Linked DNA regions of Homo sapiens. The protein of the gene in region 1 interacts with the protein of each later gene in a pairwise test. Each region holds a gene or a part of one and is shown in the gene's direction. Other genes may lie near its edges. The genes, in order: SEZ6L2, ETV5 and OASL.

The links.
Region 2: the proteins of SEZ6L2 (region 1) and ETV5 interact in a two-hybrid assay, tested with the Homo sapiens proteins (one large-scale study listed by BioGRID and IntAct).
Region 3: the proteins of SEZ6L2 (region 1) and OASL interact in a two-hybrid assay, tested with the Homo sapiens proteins (one large-scale study listed by BioGRID and IntAct).

Annotation. Positions count from the first base shown.
Region 1 is NC_000016.10:29,896,305-29,901,733, reverse strand, and holds the start of SEZ6L2 (seizure 6-like protein 2 isoform 5 precursor), read left to right. Parts: upstream 1-2,183; 5' UTR 2,184-2,714; coding exon 2,715-2,793; intron 2,794-3,749; coding exon 3,750-3,881; intron 3,882-4,612; coding exon 4,613-4,912; intron 4,913-5,429. Other genes in the region: ASPHD1 (aspartate beta-hydroxylase domain-containing protein 1), read right to left, coding at 1-762. UniProt on the Homo sapiens protein: May contribute to specialized endoplasmic reticulum functions in neurons.
Region 2 is NC_000003.12:186,105,671-186,111,075, reverse strand, and holds the start of ETV5 (ETS translocation variant 5), read left to right. Parts: upstream 1-1,986; 5' UTR 1,987-2,136; intron 2,137-5,133; 5' UTR 5,134-5,207; coding exon 5,208-5,252; intron 5,253-5,363; coding exon 5,364-5,405. UniProt on the Homo sapiens protein: Binds to DNA sequences containing the consensus nucleotide core sequence 5'-GGAA.-3'.
Region 3 is NC_000012.12:121,035,885-121,041,388, reverse strand, and holds the start of OASL (2'-5'-oligoadenylate synthase-like protein), read left to right. Parts: upstream 1-2,142; 5' UTR 2,143-2,417; coding exon 2,418-2,615; intron 2,616-5,504.

The DNA of each region.
Region 1 (5,429 bases):
CAGCAGGAGCTGGTAGCACCCGGGGGCCAGAGGTGGGGACCAGCCCCGAGGCGGAGGGGTAGTCCCTGAGAAGTCCCAGCTCACAGCCCCGAAGTCCCGCAAAATGGCAGGGAAGCTGCTCTCCAGGAGCTCCACGTCGTGCCGCTGGGCGTCCCGCGGCACAAAGGGGGCTGAAGGCAGGTCTGGTAGGAAAAGCAGGCCTGGGCGCTGAATACCTAGGACCCCTGGCCCTCTCCCAGGGCCTGGGCCACCCTGAGCTGCCCGCCTCACTCTACCCATCCCAGCCCAGGAGTAGCGCCTTGCGTAGGCCCGAAGCCGCCGGCTCACTAGGCCTTCCGTCCTAGGTCCTTCCCCGGGATCCCCAGGACCCCCTGGGCTTGGCCCGCCGGCCTCCGAGCATCCCACAGGCCCACCACGAACACCCCCAGCTCGGCTCCCAGCCCCTAGGGCCTGCATGTCTTGGGAGCCCAGGCGGTAGCAGTACCAGAGGAACAGGGAAGTGAGGGCCCCGAAGAGCAAGGTGAGGGCCGAGGAGGCCAGGGGTAGTGGCCACGGGAGCATGATCAGGGAGGCCCTGGCCAAGAGGCCTGGGGCGTCCTCCGGACCCCAGTTCCCCTGTCCCCCCAGCTCCCCACCTGTCCCTTCCATGGCTGCCCCCTGGCTCCCCGCTGGACTGTTTCCCTTCCACATTCCACTCTGGGCTGTCTCTCTCTCCTTCCGCGGTCCTCTCTCCACGCTGAAGCTCCCTCTCCCCTCCTTCATGCACCTCCAACCCTCCTCTCTCCTTTCTCTCCCCTTTCTCTCTCCTTCTACCTCTTCTTCCTCCTCTCCCTCTGTCGCCTCCTCACCCTCTTCTTTCTCCTTCCAGCAGCCTCCTCTCTCTCGCTCTGCTTCTCTCTCCCACCTCAATCTCCCCCTTTCCTCCCCACCCCCGCTTTTCGCTCGCTCTCTCTCCCCGCTTCCTCCTAGCTCCCCTGGGCAGCGGTTCCTACCCTGCCTGGACCTGCAGTCCCGGGAACCCGCAGCCTGTCTTCCTCCGCGGCAGCTTCTTTCTCTCCGGCCTCACTGCTCTCTCCTTGCCCTCGCTCCTCACTAGCCCCGACCCTGCGGTCCTGCCTGGCTCTCGCTCCCTCTCTCCTACTCGCTCCTTCCTGGGCTCCCACTCACCCTGACGTCACTCCTTCCCGGAGCCCTCTCAGCTCAGCCACCCCCGAACCCTCCCAGTGGCACAGCAAATCAGCCGGGTGCCGGGGGAGGGGGGAGAGTTGTCGCTGGAGGTGCCTCCCCACCCCCCCCGCCCGGAAAGGGCGCCACGTGGGGCGCAGGGGCCACGGTGCCAGCCTCCAGCCGTCCCGCAATGCGAAAGAAGGGGCGGGTCGTATCGGGCGGGGCCTGAGGGGCGGGGCCTGAGGGGCGGGGCGAGCGCGGACTGACGGCTGGGCAGGCGCCCGGGACTGCGGGCAAGGATGCTGAGGCCAGTCCGTCGGGCGGCTGGTCCGTCGGTCGGTCGGCCTGTGACTCCCGCTGGCCCTAGGCAGCCCGGGAGCCCGCGAGCCTGGCAAACACCGAAAGCGGCCTCAGCCAATCGCGGGCGGCGTCGGGCCGGGCCCGCCCCGGCGGGGCGAGGGGAGCTGTCCGCGCGCCGCTGGTGCTGAAAAGGGCGCTCCGGAGGGAAAATCAGAGCCGAGGCCGCCTGTTAGCTGGCCGGGGTCAGGGTTTATGGAAGAGGAGGGGTCTGTCTCTCCTCCCCAAACCCCGGCCCGTCACCCACGAGACTTGTCACAATCGTGGAAGCTCTCTATTCCCCTGGAGGAGGGAGAGCCCATTCCACCCGAGCTACTGTAAAAGGGGAAGGGAAGCCCCTTGGGAGGTCTGAATGTGAACAGGGGGCATAATTGGGGGCCTAGCAGGCGCGAACCAAGCTATGCAGCCCCTCGGCACCCTGGGAAGAGGAGATTCAGATTCCAGATGTGCTGGAATGGCAGGCGGAGGGGGCTAATTACTGCTGGGACCAGAGAGTTTCCTTTGCCTCCCCTAGGGGCCGCGGGAGTGAGGATTACGGCCCTGGCTCGTATGATCCCTCCCTCCTCCATCTGCACTTCCTCCTCCTCCCTCCCCGTCAAATAAATCCCAGGCCCCTCCCTCCGCCCGTCCCCAGGATCTGACGTGGGCTCGATACCTTTCTCAGCTTCTCCCTCCCGCAGCTCCAGTGCCCGAGCTTCGGCTCTCCCAGTTCCCCAACCCACCCCTTCCCCTCCCCGACAAGCCCCGCTAGAGCCCAGTGGAGACCCCCTCGATCCTCGACCCCACCCTAAACCCCCAGAAGCTGTCTTTCTCCTCCCCAGTCCCCTAGCTTGGGGTCCAGACAGCCCAGTGGACCCAGGCGCCTGAGCAGGAGGGTAACCCAGGCCACCCGGCCCCTTCGGCCCTCTCGGCCCCACCCCCTGCAGCCGGAGCCGCGCCCCCTCCACCACAGAGCCGCGAGAAGAGGACAGAGGAGACTGAGCAAAGGGGGGTGGGCTCCAGGCGACCCCTAGCCCAATTCTGCCCCTCCATCCCAAGGGGCAGAGAAATTGTCTTTCTTTGCTGACTCCTACGAGGAAAAAAAAAAAAAAAAAAAAAACAATTAAAGGGAAAGATAAACGGAGACGGAGGAAAGGTGGCAGCCAGATTACTTAGAGAGGCACAGAGGAGAGAGATCGGGGTGAGTCGCCATGGGGACTCCCAGGGCCCAGCACCCGCCGCCTCCCCAGCTGCTGTTCCTAATTCTGCTGAGCTGTCCCTGGATCCAGGGTAAGGACATGAGACTGTGGGGGTGGGCCCCAGGAAGGCGTCCAGCGGGGTCCTCCACCCTCCTTTCTCTTAATATCCTGGGTCTTCCGAGCACATGGGGGAGGGGAGAGGCACAGCTGATGGGGAAGGGGCAAGCCAGAGCTTTCAGGCTTGAACCCGAAGCCCCTTAACCCTCAATATTGAGAAGGCAGAGAAATGAATGAGAGAAGCTTTTAGCAGTGTCTCAGGGGCTAGATCCAAGAAGGAGGGCTGGGAAAGTTGGGGGGATGTCTGCGGAGGCGGCAGAAGCATGGAGGGACCTGGGTGGGAGATGGAGGTGCTGAGAGAGATGCCAGGCGCTGTACACACAACTGTTCTTGGATGAATGGACAAAGACAGATGAGCAGAGGCAGGGCTCAAAGACCAGATTTTCAGTCCCCCACTCTGACCCCCAGCCAGACTCCAGGGAAGGAGGCAGAGACTGCAGAGGACCAGAGAGAGAGAGGGTGGGGGGGAGAGAGAGAGAGAGAGAGAGAGAAAAGACAGCCACACTGCAGAGACAGAAACCCAGAGAGAAAGCCAGGCACTGCGGAAGCAAGGGCTGGGAGGTGCGGCCAGATCCTCTGCAGAGCCCCAGGGTTGGGGGGAGATCACCACTGAGGTGAAAGGGAAGGCAGCACCGGCGACCCCTCTGCCTTGCTGGCGCTGTCCAGGGTCCATAAGAGCTAAGGTGTTCAATGAAGGCCCACACAGCCCAGGGAGAAGGGAGAGGGGAGGGGAGAGAAGAGGTGTGGGAGTGGGAGTATGAGGGCAGCTGGGAGCCCCTCCTCCGATCTTGGCCCTCAGTCGAGCCTGGGACCATCTGAGCCCCTGCAGGCCCAGCTGATGGAGGAGGGAGGAAGAGTTCTAGAAAATATCTCTCTGGAGAAGGAAGGGGTGTGGGGAAGTGGAGAAGCTCACACAACTTCACCTCCTAGGTCTGCCCCTGAAGGAGGAGGAGATATTGCCAGAGCCTGGAAGTGAGACCCCCACGGTGGCCTCTGAGGCCCTGGCTGAACTGCTTCATGGGGCCCTGCTGAGGAGGGGCCCAGAGATGGGCTACCTGCCAGGTGAGGCCCCCAGAGTGGCAGGAGTGGCCTAGAGGCAGAGGGAGGGATATGGGCTCAGGGAGATGGGGAGCCAGGCTAGAGAAGAGCAGGCAGAGAGAGACTGCAGAGGAAAGAGCCTGCATTCCTGTGAGATTCAGGGAACACAGAACGAGACTGTCAGAGAAAGTCAAACCTGGGCACAGACAGAACCAGAGAGACAGAGACAGAATGATTAGGTGACAGTCAGACAGAAAAACAGACACATAGAAACAGAGATGGAAATTCAGAGAACCAGACTCAGAGAAATGGTGGAAGACAGAGACAGAGAGAATGAAACACAAAAACTAGTGGATCTCGAATCATGAAATCAGAGTGCAATCAGAATACTAAACAGGGAAATGGGGAAATAAAGAGTTCGAGAGAGAATGAGACAGAGGAGAGAGGAGATAACCAGAGAGAGAACGTGATCTGAGTGAGGAGGCAGAGAGAGAGGCTCAGGGAGAGGAGTATCAGGGTGGAAGGGGCTGGGTGGAGAGAAGGGACCAGAAGAGAAAGAGGGGGGACTCAGGCTGTGGAAGCCTTGGGAGGAGGTAGGGGCTGGGGTGGGGAAGGGAAAGGTGGGGGGTGCTGTACCTTGTGCGGGAGGCTTTTGTGGTATGGCAGGGGAACCCCTAGCTTCCCTCAGCCCTGCTCCCCACCCAAGGTCCTCCATGTGCTCCTCCTGTGCTCTGATATTCCCTGCACTGTCCCAGGATCTGATCGGGACCCCACGCTAGCCACCCCTCCGGCCGGCCAGACTCTCGCAGTGCCCTCCCTGCCACGGGCCACTGAGCCGGGGACAGGGCCTCTGACAACAGCCGTCACCCCTAACGGGGTCAGGGGGGCAGGCCCCACTGCGCCAGAACTGCTGACCCCGCCCCCAGGAACCACAGCCCCACCCCCACCCAGCCCTGCCTCCCCAGGGCCTCCCCTTGGGCCTGAGGGAGGAGAGGAGGAGACGACGACCACCATCATCACCACGACAACTGTTACCACTACGGTGACCAGCCCAGGTGAGGCGACAGCAAGGGGATGGGGGTGGGAGGACCGGAGAGGTACACGCTGGGGATGGATGGGAGAGAGGCTGCTGGGAACTGTGGAAGGAGTCCTGGGTACAGATGGGAGAATAATAATAACAAAGGTAGCATTTCTGTACCCTTACTATGTACCAGGCAGTGTTCCAATTGTTTCAGCTATATAACAGTTGGGAAAGGGAGTTCTGGCTCAGGTGGGAGAGGGAGCATTGCTTAAAGATAGTGATGGACATGGTGGCTCTAGCCTGTAATCCCAGCACTTTGGGAGGCCAGGCGGGCAGATCACCTGAGGTCGGGAGTTCGAGACCAGCCTGAGCAACATGGAGAAACCCTGTCTCTACTAAAAATACAAAATTAGCCAGGCGTGGTGGCGCATGCCTGTAATCCCAGCTACTCAGAAGGCTGAGGCAGGAGAATTGCTTGAACCCGGGAGGTGGAGGTTGTGGTGAGCTGAGATCCAGCCATTGCACTCTAGCCTAGGCAACAAGAGCAAAAC
Region 2 (5,405 bases), on another chromosome or scaffold:
TGTGGGCTGTAAGCCTTCCGGAGGGCTGGGGCCTGAGAGACTTAAGGGAAGAGGAGTAAGAAAGCTCCTTTGGAAAAATGAGTTTAGAGAGCAGGATGTCATGGGATGGGATGGGGAGGAGCGGGAGTGGGGGTAGACAAAATTGGGGAGGAGGAGGATCTGGGAGCTTACCTGGGCCCTTCATCTAGCTAGGGAGATAGAGCTCTCAGGAATGTCAGCAATAAGCTCAGAGCACAACTGTACTAGTGTAAGATCTCCAGCCACCAAACAGAAACGGTACCACCTGGAGAAAGAAAAAGGGCACTAAGGGAAAACTGGAGTCGGAAGCAAAATGTTCTACCAGGAAACTAGATCTCAAGGAACTGCTTGTTACATGTTCAGAGTACTTTCCATCCATCAACTCATGCCCATTTCAGTCTTCCAAAGTCAACAGCTCCAGCGTGCCTGGTCAGTGCTGAGCCCAGGACTCAACACGGGTGCTGCAGGTTGCTTAGGGGCACGCCAACATTTCAAGGGCTATAAACGACAGACCAAGTGTCCGCTCTGTTTAAGAGACACAAGTGGAGATAGGAAAGAACCTTTGACTTAAGTGTGGGGGTGGCAGGGGCAGGAACTGCCCCAGAGTTGGCCACCGTGGGACCCCCATTGCTAGGGGCTCTCTCCTGTCACTTAGCATCTTTCCTCCCCACCGCTGGCACGCGGCGTGAATGGCAGGGCACTCCAGCAGGACGAGAACAGAGCTCCGTCACAGGCCCCCAGCATCCCCGGAGAGAAGATAGAGCCGCCCCACGGCCTTCACAGGAGGGGGTAAGGGGGCGGAGAGGGGAGAGGATTGTTTGTTTATTTGTTTCCTGGAACACCCTGTTAAGAATCTCAGCAATTGCAGTTAGTGCCCTATCGTTTGGCAAGCAGAGCCGCTTCTCGTCGTTCCCAGCTGCACGGGATCTAATTCGCAAATACACCATCTTGCATTCAATACTTAAATGGAAAACAAGCAGCCCGGGGAGGGAGGCAAAAAGTCTGAGTCTGCATGCCCGTTTCGGAGGGATTTAGGTTTCCAGGTCGGTGGACTGGCTGCTGCTGTCCCCGGAGAGGATTTCTTTGAGCCCGAACCCTGTCTCACCTCGACTACAGAACCCACTCTGGCGGAGGTTACGAGCCGCAGTTAAAGAGAAAACGGGATTTGGTTGGGTCTTAGGCCTTGCCAGTACAAAATAGTAACAAAAATCTGTTTGAGAGCTGAGATTTTAAAAGGAGATGCTGCTTATTCTTCCCACTGGAAACCTGGTTAAAAGAAATTAAGGCCTCTCTTAAAGGTAACTAAGATTAGAGGGCTCGGTTTCCGTTTTCTGTGTTTCTGTGGGCTAAACGCCCAGGTCGGTCAGCGAGTTTGTGTGGAATGACGAATTCCTCTCCCCTGAATTCTAAAATGATAACTTTGCTTGGTGCTGCAGCTGCGAACGTCTGGCGCCAAGAGACCCAATTCTGGTCGGGGCTTTGCTGGATGGAGAAGTGGGGGTGAGTGGGTAAGGGGGAAGAGTCGTGCCTCGGTGAAAAGTCGGGAGAGCGGCGAGAAGGGAAGTAACGGCGGCTCCTCCTGGCCTCGGCCCCTTTAAGTGCTTCACTGACTCAGCTAAGCTTCCCCCTCAGGTCGCGTTTTTTATGAATGAAAAACGTCCTTACATTCATTATATAAACAAGCCTGTGCTGATTGGCCAATGGCCCCCGGTGCATAAATTATGTAAAACAGACCCCTGAGGGGGTGGAGAGAGATGCACCGCTGGCCAATGGGGGCCGGAGTTGATGGGGCGGCTTGGTTGGATTTGCCCGCAGACAGGGTAAACAAGAGGTGATGGACAGCCGCGGGAACGGCCTCTGGCCAATGGGAACAAGGCTGGGCTAGGGCCGCGGGCCAATGGCGGCGGGCGGAGCAGCGAGCCGCGGGGGGCCGGGCCAGCGCTCCAGCCTGGTTGGCAGCTGCGGCGCAGAGTCCAGCCGCTGGTGCGCGGAGCGGTTCACCGTCTTCGGAGCGGTTCGGCCCAGCCTTTCGCCCAGGCGCCCAGGCCCGCTGCGCGCGTGCGTGAGCGCGCCTGCGCCGCCGGGGCCGCTGCAAGGGGAGGAGAGAGGCCGCCTCAGGTGAGGGGGCTTTGCGGGGGCAGGGGGGAGATCGGAAGGGGCGTCCGGCCACTGGTCCGACAGGCCCAGCCGGCTAGAGTTCACGGGCTGATTCAGAATCTTCAAAGTCGGGGTGCAGTAGCTGGGGTGACCCCCCCCGGGTTGACCGCCCCCTCCCCCCGCGGCCCGGTCCGGTTTGGTTCCTGGGAGGCGTCGGGCGGGTGCGGCTAACGGTTCCGGAGCGCGGGGAGAGCGGCTTTCCACACGTCGTGGGGGAGGCGCCCCGGAGCGCGAGTGCGGGGGCTCCCGAGTGGATGGGGGATCGCGGAGTTGCGAGGCTTTCACAGTCTCTGGAGATTCGAGAGCCCCGAGGGGACTTGGAGGCTCGCGAGAAGAGACGCTTGGCGGAGCTCCGCAGTTGGGAGGAGGGGGCGGGAAGCAGTTTGAGGGGAATGTCTGAGAGGCGCTGCCCCCCAGAGCACCGGGAGGGGGTAAATGACACAGGCAAGTGCAGCCTGCGGGGGCGGGGGTCGACCAGGAACTTACGCAGGCCTTGCAAGTTTCAGGTGGTGGAAAGTGGACATCCAGTCGCCCTGCTCCCACCCAGCAGGCTGAGGGCGTCCGGCTGTGCGGCGACTCGAGAAAATCGGGGCGCACCGGAACAGCGGCCTGGGGATGGTGGGGATAACACGGGTGTGGAGGGGACAGCACCGAAAGATGCTGCAGCCTCGCAGCGGATTAGGGTTCCGGCCGCATTTTCAGAGGGTGGAGAAAACTCGGGGGGGAACCGAACTCCTGGTCGACGAGGGGGTGCCAGGGAGAGATGTTGGGGGTGGGGGGATTGGAAGCGGTTGGTAGCGCCGGGCGCCGCACCTCGTTTTTATGAATGTGGGTGACTTTATGAATGAAGCGGGTTTCTTTCGTTGGCTCGCTGCTCCCTGCGGCTTTTTTTTTTTTCTTCCCTTTTTGTGAATGAAGCATTGAGCTTTCTTCCTAAAACGCTGGGGTGAGGGGCCTGCGTCGGAGGCTGGGCGTGCGTTGGAAATGGGGGCGGGGGCGCAGCTGAAGGAGTTTTCATGAATGGGGAAGGCTGAGAATTGGGTGGAAGTGTGTCTTGTTTTGTGAATGGGGCCCAGCGCTAGAGATCCAGTTACAGCCTCTACCTGATGTGGCGGCCGCGGCTCGCTCTCCCATTCATAAAACCGGGCCCGCTGCGCGCCACAGGGGAGGGGCCTGGATCGCGCCGCTGCGCTGTGCTAAAGTTTTCCTGGGGGCGCCCGGGGCGCGGGTGGTGGGGGGGCAAAGGAAGTGGTTTAAACTCCTGGATGAACTCGAGCCTTTCCTTCAGGCTTTTAAAAAAATTATACTTGGAATACAATTTTTCTAACCCTGGAATGCCTCTTTTCCGTTCGTTTATGGCAGTTTATTTCTTTTAATTTTTTAGAATTTTTTTTGCTCTTCCGGGTGAAGTATTTCATCATGAGACTGAAAAATATCTCCCCCTCCCGTCTTCTACTGGTTGTCCCCTTCCTCCTAACACATTCACAAAATGTCTTAGGCCATGATTTAATCTGACAGATTTTCCTAAGCGACAGAGCACTCTCTCTTTCATGCCCCTCAACTCACTGCTGAGGTTTCTCAGATTTTGTATACGGTTTGGTGGCATTTGAGAGAGGCGTTATTCTGAACATTTCTTGTGGTGTTTGGACGGGGCACGCAGGCAGGCTGGCGCGAGTGTTTTTCTAGGAAGTTATGAACTGTGTGCTATTTTGCTCCTCTCTTTCCTTTGACTTTGAAAATATCTGATTCCTTGGGCCAAAGTGCTGCGGAGGATGCTGGCTGTGAAGGGTGTCCTTGTATCCTGCCCACTTATGAAAAATTTGATATGCTACACACAGTGTGAAAAACAAATTGGATGGAATTGCTCACCGGGGGAAAAGTTTCCTGTTTAAAATTGTGTATATGTCAAACAAAAGAAGTTGACCTTTAAGCATTTTGAATTGCTTAGAGCTGGAGTGAGTGAAATTAATGTTTTTCCACCTTTTGTTGACTTAACGGTGTTTTTATTTGAAGAATAAAAGTGTTTAGGAAGATGGTACCTCCCTGAAATTGTTACTTTATTCCACTCACGTTAGGAGAAGTTTTCTCCCTTCTAACCCCACCCTTTTTCCCCAGACTCACACACTTACCCGTCCTGAAATGAGTTTCATTTGGGGGTGGGGGGGTATGTCTAGAAAAAAATGATTCCGCTATATGAAACAGCCTAAGTTTTAAAAGACCTTTGGTAGAGATGCATTGTACCACATGCAATGGAATTAGTTTTTTTAATCCATTACTTTTCATAGACATTTTACTCTTTTAGAAGTTGGAGATGTCACAAATATCTCTGTAAGTAACCAGGGAGATATTTGTGACATTACAGATGCTATATCTGTTTAGTCCTCTTTTAAATAAAGAGTTGTGTGTGAAGATAAGTATACCTCTGATCAATTTATTCCAGGAACTATATATAGTGTTTTAACAGTGACCTACAAAATGCTTTTGGAAACACCATGTATGTCAGATCTTTAATTGCCAATAATTTGGAATACTTAAACCCAGTTTCTCTGCTTCCTGACACTGTACTGTCAAAAATTAAATTATCTCTTTTTTAAAAACCCTACTACAAATGCCCTGGAGTATATGAGAGAATCTTGAAATCACCCTTTTATTTTATTTTATTTATTTATTTTTGTTTTGGTAGAGAACAGACAGTAGCAAATCTGTAATTTTAATGATTTAAATAAGAAAGAAAAAATGATGACTGGGTAAATGGATTTGGCACGGAGTACATCCTGTACCTCTGATACCATTAATCAAGCCCGGCATTGGTGTGTAAAGCTTGCACCTTGAGTAGGTTTTAAGTACTTCACAGAAGGGTAATAATTTTGCACAGGCCCTAAAAAAAAGGCAGTCTAAAATTGTTTCATTTCTTTTTTTCCCCCCTCTTAGTTAAAATCTCCCAAATTCATATTACAGGAGGATCCCTTTTCCCCCAGAAATTACTCAATGCTGAAACCTCTCAAAGTGGTATTAGAGACGCTGAAAGCACCATGGACGGGTTTTATGATCAGCAAGTCCCTTTTATGGTCCCAGGGGTAAGTTTATGTGGCTTTTGGTTTGTTTTGTCCTCCCTCTCCAATATGAGTCTTCCCCCTGTGGACCTCTTTACTACACTTGAGCCTTCACTTTCTGTTGGCCTCTTTCAGAAATCTCGATCTGAGGAATGCAGAGGGCGGCCTGTGATTGAC
Region 3 (5,504 bases), on another chromosome or scaffold:
AGGTAGGGATTTTTCACTACTGTTTGTTCACTGTTGTATCCACAGCACCTGCCTGGCACAGAGTAGGTGCCCAGTAAGTATCTGTTGAATGAGTGAACGAATGAGTGAATAGCACTCCAAGATTCAATCCTGCCCACCTGTCCAGGTACATTTCTAACCTCTCCCCTGCTCACCCTTTCATCCCAAGGCACACAGCACACTTGAGTCCCTGGCATATCCTAGCATTATTTATACTTCTCAGCCTCTATGCTGTACCCTCATCCTCCTGGCTGGAGTGCCAGTCTTTTTTATTTTTTATTTGGAGACAGAGTCTCATGCTGTCACCCAGGCTGGAGTGCAGTGGCACCATGATAGTTCACTGCAGCCTGAAACTCCTAGACTCAAGTGGTCCTCCCACCTCAGCCTCCCAAGTAGCTGGGGCTACAGGTGGACACCACCACACCTAGCTATTTTTTAAAAAACTTTTTGTTTTTAAAACAAAAACTGGAGTTTTAAACTCCAGGCCACCACTGCCTCTCACCTGCACCACTGTGCAGTGTCCTGACCATCTCCCTACATCTGTTCTTGCCCTTGCAATCATCCTCACCACAGAAGCAGAGAAGTTACAAGTGTGGCAAAGGGCAGACCGGAATTCAAAGCCAATGTGGAGTGGGGAGTTGGATACATGAGTCTGGATTTCAGGGAAGAGGTATGGATTTAAGATACAAATGTGGGAGTCACTGGGTATGGTGGCTCACGCCTGTAATCCCAGCACTTTGGGAGGCCGAGGAGGGCAGATCAGGAGTTCAAGACCAGCCTGGGCAACATGGTGAAACACTGTCCCTACTAAAAATACAAAAAGTTAGCCAGGCGCGGTGGCGGGCTCCTGTAATCCCAGCTCCTTGGGAGGCTGAGGCACAAGAATCGCCTGAACCTGGGAGGCAGAGGTTGCAGTGAGCCGAGATTGTGTCACTGAACTCCAGCCTGGGCGAGACAGTGAGACTCCATCTCAAAAATAAACAAATAAATAAAAATAAAATTAAAATGTGGAAGTTGCCAGAGTAAAAACATTTAAACGCTGGCTGAAATCACCAAGGGAGTAAGTCTAGAACAAGAAGAGAAAAGGACCCAGGACTAAGCCCTGGAGCACTTAATATTATTCAGAGTTTGGGAAGTTGCAGGTGTCCAGCTATGTTGCCCAGGCTGGTCTTGAACTCCTGGCCTCAAGTGATCCTCTCACCTTGGCCTCCCAAAGTGCTGGGACTACAAGCATGAGCCACCATGCCCAGCCCGGATCCCCAGTCTTTAAGATTCCTCTCAAGCAGGTGTCTGCTAACACCAAATGAAACTCATCTGCCGGCTTCATGTTTTCATGCTTTTTTCCTACTTAACTCATCGCACTGGACTTTTGCAGTCTCTTTTTTCTGTGTCTCCTCCACCGTTCTGGGAGTCCCCTTGGAACAGGAACCTCATCTTATTTTGTCTTCTTGGCTCAATGCATGAACTTCTTGGTTCAGTGCGTGAATCATAATACCTGTTAAACCCACTCTATGGGCCGGGCGCGGTGGCTCACGCTGTAATCCTAGCACTGTGGGAGGCCGAGGTGGGCGGATCATTTGAGGTCAGGAGTTTGAGACCAGCCTGACCAAAATGGTGAGACCCCCGTCTCTACTAAAAATACAAAAAAAAAATTAGCCGGGCGTGGTGGCACATGTCTGTAGTCCCAGCTACTAGGGAGGCTGAGGCAGGAGAATCGCTTGAACCCGTGAGGCAGAGGTTGTAGTGAGCTGAGATTGCACCACTGCACTCCAGCCTGGGCAACAGAGCAAGACCCGGCCAAAAAAAAAAAAAAACAAAAAAACAAAAAAACCCACTCTATGAATAGTGAGGGTCAAAGAGGTTAGAGTCTGGCACAGGTAGACTAGAATTCCCAGTCTGTTCTCTTGGGCTCCAGATTCTCACTCCACCACCTGAACACTAGTGAGTCCCTTCCGTTCCCAAGCCTCAATTTCCTTAGACAGATGTAAGCAGTTGAATTGACTAACAACTATCCAACCCCAACCTACTGGGCAAGTTGCCTCCTTTGGGGTCAAACACTATCCAACTTCAGTTTCCCAACGTCATAAAGGAGAACTCTAAAAGTTGAGAATCGAAACTGATGACAGATTGACTAGACGGCCAGCCTGTTAAGGTGGCCCCAGATATTCCAGCCTCAGCCCAGAGTCCTCCTGTGCCCCTACTGCAGCAAGGGTGTCTCCAAGAAGGGGGACCTGGAGTCAGCCCGTCACACCTGGTTTCCTCTCTGCTAGGGTCCCTCCTCCCACAGAGCACTGGAGGGCAGCTGAGGAGGAGCTACCTTAAAAAAGGAGGTGTGTGCCAGGGAGCTGGGTAGGAGCCTGGCTATATATCTGCCCAGCAGCGGTACTCTCGGGACAGAGATGGCACTGATGCAGGAACTGTATAGCACACCAGCCTCCAGGCTGGACTCCTTCGTGGCTCAGTGGCTGCAGCCCCACCGGGAGTGGAAGGAAGAGGTGCTAGACGCTGTGCGGACCGTGGAGGAGTTTCTGAGGCAGGAGCATTTCCAGGGGAAGCGTGGGCTGGACCAGGATGTGCGGGTGCTGAAGGTAGTCAAGGTAAGACTGGGCTCCTCCAGCCCCCACGCAAGACAAAACCCAGTATCAGAGTCCACGTCCCTGGGGATGCTGGGGACCCCTGTCCTCCTTATCCCTAGCCCATGCTGATGACATCTCAGAATACCCCATCCCACCTAGCTGTCTACACCCCACTGCACCACTGCCTTGAGTAGAATGAGTCTAGTAATAATAGCTCACATTTGGGGGCTCACTGGACTAACCTCTTAACATACACTATCTCTAATTCTTGCACTCTGTGAGATAGGTACTATTCTTTGCCCAGTTTACAGATTAGCAAATGGAGGCTCAGAACCAATACAATGCGAGGTCCTTGGTTGGATCCTAGTGTGAATGAACCATCTGTAAAATATAGTTTGGGGACAACTGGCCTAGATATCAGATAGTACATATATCTGATATGGGAAATCATTGTTGATTTTGTTAGGTGTAACAGTAGTTTTGTGGTTATCAGAAGGTTGTCTTTTGTTTGGACACGAACACTGAAGTATTTTAGGGACAAAGTTCCTTGGTGCCTATAATTTACTTTAACGTGGCTTAGATTAAGCACATGTAGCCAGGAATTTAGACTTGTTGAATCAACTAGTTGGGTATATGAGTGTTAGTTGTATCATCTATTTTTCTATGTGTTTTAACTTTTTGATAATAAAATGACTTTTTTTTTTTTTAGAGACAGGGTCTCGCTCTGTCACCCAGGCTGGAGTGCAGTGGCACAATCACCACTCACTGTAGCCTCAATCTCCCTGAGCTCAGGTGATCCTCAGCCTCCTAAATAGCTTGGGATTACAGGCATGCACCACCATGCTCAGCTAATTTTTGTATTTTTTGTAGAGATAGGGTTTCACCAATGTTGCCCATGCTGGTCTCGAACTCCTGGGATCAAGAATATGCCCACCTTGGCCTCCCAAAGTGCTGGGATTACAGGTGTGAGCCACCATGTCTGGCCGGCCAATAAAATGATTTTTGTTTTTGTTTTTTTTTTTTTGAGACAGAGTCTTGCTCTGTCACCAGGCTGGAGTGCAGTGGCACGATCTCAGCTCACTGCAACCTCTGCCTCCCAGGTTCAAGCAATTCCCCTGCCTCAGCCTCCCAAGTAGCTGGGACGACAGCGCCCACCACCACGCCCGGCTAATTTTTTGTATTTTAGTAGAGACAGGGTTTCACCGTGTTGGCTAGGATGGTCTCGATCTCCTGACCTCATGATCTGCCCTCCTCGGCCTCCCAAAGTGCTGGGATTACAGTGAGCCACTGCACTCGGCCTAAAATGATTTTTTAATGGAGGCTCAGAGAGGTGAGGTGACTTGCCCAAGGTCACACAGTGTTGAAGCTGGGATTTGAACTTGACTCAAGGGACCCAAGCCCCCCTCACTGAGATTTTCCCCCAAGCCCTTCCTCCAGCTGTTTCATGCCACCGCCTGTGCTAGCTAAGATCAAAATTCAAGAGGGTCGGAGCTAGAAAGACTTTGGAGAATCAGACAGTCTCACCAATGACTCACTTAAAAAATTAAGTAAACCGAGGCACAGAGAGGGTGAGAGATACCCCAAGGTCACACAGCGAGTTGGTGGCAAAGGCAAGACTAGAATTAGGACCCCTGACTCCCAGCCCAGTGCTCAAGTTCTCTCTCTAGGGGCAACCAACTCACAGAGGGATCTAGAAGCCCTGGGCCCCTATCCGTTCTTTGCACCTATCCCCAGCATATGAAGCCTGAGGCCATACAATTTATAAGTGAGAAACCACAAATTTTGATATTAGACAGACTCTTCGCTTCTTCCTTTACCAGCTGTGTGGTTTTGACCTTCCCACTCTTCTTTCTCAAACCCACATTCTTTTCATCTGTGATTGGGGCATCATCATCATCTCTCCCTCACCAAGCCAGTGGTGCAATGCAGGCTGAATGATTCATGCACGATAAATGCTCAGAAACAGAAGCATCATTATAATTCTTGCCAAGCTTTCTTCTGGGCCTGGGACTCAAGTCTGACTCTGGCAGACCCTCCTAGACCACCCCCTCCCCAACAAACTTGAGAATAAAGTGGAGGGAATAAGGAATGTCTGGTAAGAGGAGGATGCTACAAGAATAAGTTTATTGTGTGTGTGTGTGTTCCACCACGCCTGGCTAATCTTTGCATTTTTAGTAGAGACGGGGTTCCATCATGTTGGCCAGGCTGGTCTCGAACTCCTGACCTCAAGTGATCCACCCACCTCGGCCTCCCCAAATGCTGGGATTACAGGTGTGAACCACCACGCCCGGCCAAGAATGAGTTTTTACGGCAGGAAATGCTATTTACCTAAGCCTCAAATACTTCCTGCACATCATAGCCACTTTTCCTCTTGAAACCACTAAATGGTAGCAATCCCCAGTGAGCCATGACTAATGAGGAATAATATATCTTATTTAGAGTCTAAACCCTCCCGTTCCCCACCCTCTGAAAATCTAGTGAGCGGAGCTGGTCCACATAAGGGAATGCTCGTCTTCAAATGAATTGTGCTTAAATAGGTTTAAAACTGAAGCAAATCAGGAAGCCTGTTCTGGATGTGTTCTTTTCTCTCTGCCTGGATCTTACCAGTGGGAAAGGCAGAAAGGGAAGTCTACGCCAGGCACAGTGGCTCACGCCTGTAATCCCAGCACTTTGGGAGGCCAAGGTGGGAGGATTGCTTGAGCCCAGGAATTCGAGACCAGCCTGGGCAAAATGGTGAGACCCCCGACTCTACAAAAATATATATAAAAAATTAGCTGGGCATGGCGGTGCATGCCTGTAGTTCCAGCTACTCCGGAGGCTGAGGTGGGAGGATTGCTTAAGCCCAGGAGGTCGAGGCTTCAGTGAGTGAAGATCGTGCCATTGCACTCCAGCCTGGGCAACAGAGCAAGA